Regions from separate parts of the Homo sapiens genome. Here region 1 is linked to region 2. The links come from fine-mapping of genetic effects on gene expression. A gene starts in region 2. The other region holds a variant in brackets. All regions are shown on one strand. Distances are between the middles of the regions.

Evidence for each region. PIP is the estimated chance that this variant, and not a neighbour inherited with it, causes the effect.
Region 1: its variant is the best candidate, but not a certain one, in a credible set for the expression of CSNK2A1 in lung (TOPMed, PIP 0.54).

Annotation. Positions count from the first base shown.
Region 1 is chr20:491,990-494,757 of GRCh38, forward strand. CSNK2A1 (casein kinase 2 alpha 1) reads right to left here. Exons shown (of 14, transcript NM_177559.3): 9 at 265-375. Among named protein-coding and RNA genes, the nearest start is that of TBC1D20, 31 kb to the left of the region's middle. The variant G/C (reference allele first, on the strand shown) is at 1,725.
Region 2 is chr20:542,489-545,256 of GRCh38, forward strand. It overlaps CSNK2A1 (casein kinase 2 alpha 1), which reads right to left and starts at 1,302. Exons shown (of 14, transcript NM_177559.3): 1 at 1,184-1,302. RefSeq lists enhancers at 1-315, 1,009-1,702, 1,188-1,337, 1,358-1,437, 1,548-1,597 and 1 more and a silencer at 808-867.

The sequences.
Region 1 (2,768 bases), 50 kb before region 2:
AGAACATATCTTTGGCTACTTTCCCTCAAGTCAGGATCAAATGCAAACCTATTCATATTCTACCGACATTATGACAATAAAAGTAATGTAAGTCATGGTACATGAATTAAGGTGATTTATATTTTACATTTCATATAAAAAGGACAGCTGTGAATGTGCATTAAGTGGCCTACCTAAATGCACAAAATGATACTTTTTTTTTTTTGGTAAATTATGTGCGAAATAAACACAGGATCAAAACTGTGCCTGCCCTTCTGTTCTTACCTGATAGTCTACAAGTAGCTCAGGACCTTTGAAGTATCGGGAAGCAACTCGGACATTATATTCTTGGCCAGGATGATAAAACTCAGCCAAACCCCAGTCTATTAGTCGTAGCTGAAAAAGAATAAACCATGAGCAATCTTATCTTTCTCTAAGCTACCCACACTGTGCCATTAGCATACTCTTGATAAAATATACCAGACACGTCACTCTTTACTGAAACCCCTCCACTGACTACTTATAGCCTTTAGAATGAAAATAAAACTTCTTAGCTTGACAAACCTCTTTCTCCATGATTTTGTTCCTGGAAGACACAATCTCACCTGTGCTTTTACAAATTTCTTAAACTGCTCAATGACTAAAATGTCCCTACTACCCAGCCTATAATCCTATTGGTAAGCATTTCCTTAACTTTTGGAATATTTAAGTCAGCTTCTCAATGAAGTCTGATCATTGCCTTCAGCCCCCTGAATTTTAGATATATTTCTTTAACAGAACCTAAACTCTTTATGTTTTCTACCTTTCTTTTTCAATATGGACGACAAGCTCCTTAGGGGTAGGGACTGTTTTATTCACCTTTGTAATTTTCAGAATTCAACATAATGCCTGGTATACAGGAGAAAAATGAATAAATATTTGCTGGATAGATGAAATAACAGAAAAGTCATACAATACAGCTTTTACCAAAATGCATCCTAAACATGGAAAAAGGGGTAAGAGGCAAGCTTATCTGCCCACTGTGCATAGCATGACCATGATCTGAAGTGCCAGCAGTAGGCCCTGAGGAAAAACATCGGACTGCTCTGGCACTAAGTTTACTGCCTGTATCTCAAAACTAAACCTTTGATTACTCCCTGCAAAAGCACCTCCACTCAGTCTCCCCCTGTTCGGTTAAAGGTGATACTCATCCTGTCATACAAGCCAAAACTTAAGATTCACCCTGGATTCTTGATTCCCTCAGACCTCACATTTAATCTGTCAAAAAATTCTGAAGGTTCTATCATATTGTGACCATTATCATCACCTCCACTGCCACTGCCCCGATCCAAGCCACCACCACCTCTTGTTTGATATATTGCCATAGCCCCTTCTCCTAACTGGTCTCACTGCTTTCACTCTTGCCCTCTAGTCTAAACAGTTTAATAAATACTAAATAGTTTAATAGTTATTTTAAAAATAATTAAATATTTAAAAATAAATATAAACAGCTTTTTAAAAGGATTGTTCAGGTTGCTATGGAGAGATTATAGATTCACAGGAAATTGCCAAAGTAGTAGAGATTCTCTGCACCCTTTACCCAGTTTCCCCTAATAGTAACATCTTACATAACTACAGTACAATATCAAAATCAAGAAACTGACACTGGCACAATTCAGAAAGATCTTATTCAGGTTTCACCAGTTTTACATGCACGCATGTGTTTGTGTGTGTGTTTCTATGCAATTTCATCACATATGTAAGTT[G/C]ATATAATCTCCTCAACAAGATATAGAACTGTTCCATCACCACACACATGTCCTGTGTGTTAGCCCAACCCCTGGCAACCCCTCTGCTCTTTATCTCTATCATTTTGAGAATGCTACAAAAATGGAGTCATTGGCATATAACTTTTTTTGAGACTGCCTTTTTTCACTAAGCATGAGATCCATCCAAGTTGTTGCATGTGTCATACTTCTTTCCTTTTTATTGCTGAGAAATACTACTTCATAATAATATTATATGGTATGGATATGCCAGTTTGTTTAACCATTCCCTCATTGAAGGGCACTTTTCCCCATTTTTTTTTTTTTTTTTTTTTGAGACGCAGTCTCGCTCTGTCACCCAGGCTGGAGCACAGTGGCACGATCTCGGCTCACTGCAACCTCCGCCTCCGGGGTTCAAGCAATTCTCCTGCCTCAGCCTCCTGAGTAGCTGGGATTACAGGTGCATGCCACCAGGCCCGGCTAATTTTTGTATTTTTTTAGTAGAGACAGGGTTTCACCATGTTGGCCAGGCTGGTCTTGAACTCCTGAACTCGTCATCTGCCTGCCTTGGCCTCCCAAAATGATTACAGGTGTGAGCCACTGCACCCAGCTTTTCCCCCCAATTTTAAGCTATTACAAATATAGTTGCATTCATATATAGGCTTTTGTGTGGACCTAAGATTTTGTTGCTCTGAGATAAATGCCACTGCAGGATTGTATGGTAAGCATATGTTTAGCTTTTCAAGAAACCAACCAACTATAAAACAATAGTTAAGCATTTTCCAAAATGCCAAACTTTGCATTCCTACCAGCAATGTATGAGAGATCAAGTTTCTTCACATTTTTGCCAGCACTTGGTACCATCACTATTTTTTATTTTAGCTGTTCTAATAAATGTGTAGTTAACTTTTAAATTTCAAGTGAGAACATGCTAAAGCTTAGAATATGCAAAAGCTCTCTATCTTCAGAGAAAAGGCCTAACAATGACCAATAAGGTTTTACATGATTTGGTTTTACCTCTTTGATTTCATTTCCTCCTTCTTTCCC
Region 2 (2,768 bases):
AGTGGCGGATCTCAGCTCACTGCCACCTCCGCCTCCCAGGTTCAAGCGATTCTCCTGCCTTAGCCTCCCGAGTAGCTGGGATTACAGGCGCGCGCCACCAAGCCCGGCTGATATTTGCATTTTTAGTACAGACGGGGTTTCACCGTGTTGGTCAGGCTGGTCTCGAACTCCTGACCTCGTGATCCACCCGCCTCGGCCTCCCAGAGTGCTGGGATTACAGGCGTGAGCCACACGCCCGGCCTCTCTTCTTAGTTTTCATTTCCTCTCCCCATGTCCCATTCTCGTAGAATTAAACAGCTGAAAAGTAATCAAGTCTTCCCAAATAATTTGCCACCTTCTTTTCAAAACTCTTTCCTCCACACAAAGCAATAGCCAAGATGCAACTTCTCCTGACCCTGACTCTGCTTCCCCAAAACAAACTACAGAAGCTCCACCCATCACCTGCTTAATCTAGCAATGTTCCAACACTGCAAAAAACACACAACGAAAAACAAAATTGAAAAGTCCTACTCTTTCAAAAGGTCACCAACATATGTATACCCTTAGCCAAGCTTTCTCTCCATACCTCTTTTTCTATCCAGGCTCCTAACTAGTCCTTAACTCCAACTCCAGACGTTCTGCCCCACGTCTTGGTCCCTTCCCCCTTTCGCCCCAGCAACCCCGCCTGGGGTTCTCTCCACCTCGCACCCACTCTGCAGGTGGGAAGCTCAGCCCCGCCCAGAGGGACCCTAAGAAGGCCCCTACTCCAGCTGCCCAGTTTCGCGGGAGGGTTCACTGCACACTACCCAGCAGGCACCACTCCCTCCGCACCCTCCCCCAGCACCCCCCTGCGGCCCCACCCCTCAAGTTCCCTTCCCCCTCTGACGACCCCCTCCTCCAAGTTGTCCCCTAGTCCCCACCCAGTTCAGTCCTCTCCTCTGCAATAAGCTGGACTCCGGCAGCCGGTTCCCACCCTCACATCGGCCTCTGCCCCCAAACCTCGCCCTCCGCCCTGAGGGGTGGCCCCTGGGCCTCCCCGATGGGCTGCAGGGGCCTCGCTTGGTTTATGTGTGAAGGTGGGGGCAGGGGAAGGCGACGGGCCGCTCAGGAGTCTGCTGGAAGCGTGAGGGTCGGCCGCGCTCCGCTGCCCTATCCTGGGCCCACCCCACCCGCCAACGACCTCGCCTGGCTGCTCCCTAGGTACCTGTGGTGGAAGCGGCAGCGGCGGCGGCCGCTCTCCCCTCTGCTCACACAGACAATATGGCGGCGATGGAGGAGGAGACACACGGCTCGGCCGCCAGCCGCAGGGACCAGAGCGAGGCTGCAGCCGCTGCTGCCGGAAGCGGAAACCCCCTCCTACCAGGAGGCGGGGCGAGACAGCTTCCGACTCCGCCCCCAGAGGAATCTCTCTGAATGCGGCCATGCTGGGATGTCCTATTGTAACCTTAGGGATTCAGTTCTGGCCTAGGGTGCAAAATGGAAGGAATCCCCAACGCAAAGCAGAATAAGGAGACTTGCAATAGTTAAGCGCATTTTATTTCAATAGTGTTAACAAGTGACAACAGAGAGAACACGAACCTCCCATTAGGTGAACAGTTGGTTTGACCCAAGTTAAGATGGCGGTACCCAGGTTTCCCACACTTCACCCAGCTGGCCCCCCTTTCTTGAAAAGAACCATGCGCGACCTGCAGAGCTGTAGAGCCAAGCATTCTGGGAGCTGAAGTCTCTTTTGCTCTGACCCCTCGTTTTAAATTAGGGTTTCAGCAACACTTTCTATTCAAACTTGGAGTTCGGAAGAAGTGAATGAAAGTTGGACCCTAGGAAGGGCATGGCGCAGGAGTCTGAGAAGTGAGGATACTAGCTCTCAAGAGACCAAGGCCCAATTCCTTCCTCCTACAGGAGTCCTGCCAAGAGCTGTGCGTCCAAAATACAGTGTTTTTTTTTCCTTCTATCTGCCTCCCACCCCTGCTCTCCTTGCCCGAGCTACCTCCCCAAAACAGCCACAAAGCACTTTCTACCATGCAGAGCTCATCATGGTCTCCCTATGGTCAAAAATCTCCCATGGACCTCTTTATGCACCAAAGATAGCCCAAACTCTTCACTTGACATTCAGAGTCCTCCATAATTTGGCCAAACCCTCCTTTCCAGCCTCCTATTCTGCCACTCTCTTCTCAAATTCCGGAAGATTCCACCCACAAGACTGCAAACAATTCCTGGAACTTAGCTGTGTTGCCTCCCTCCCTTTACACTGGCAGTTACTTCTCTTACTGTCACCTCATGGACTGGATAATTTCTGTATGCCGATTGAACTAATTCAGGGATCCTTTCCTCTAGGGGTCTCCTCTCTGTTTAACTCCCTCCAACCCAGACACTATCAGTCAGTAACCTGAGGACCTCAGTCTGTCTCCTCCATCAGACTGGGAGCCCCCAGTGGACAGGGCTCCATCTGATGATCAACCTCTCCTTTGCAGGCCCTGATAAAAGCTGAAGCGTCTAAGAGTTGCTGAAAGGAGTTCAAGTATTAGTCTCACCTCTGGTGGGACAGAGGTGTGAGCACTGGAACGAGGGTGAGGAGGCCAGGTTCTTTCAGTACCAACCATTATCCCTAACTGTCTCAGAATAGCTGGTTGTCTCAGGAATGGGCCTCTCCACCCTCCACAGCCCTGCCTTCACAGTTTGTCAGCTGACTAGCACCTCTGCTCCCAAAGAGGCACCTCTTCCCCATGTGGGGTTAGGGCTGGTGGTGGCTGCAGACTTATAGTGATGGCCTCAGGGAGGTGGCTGTGGCC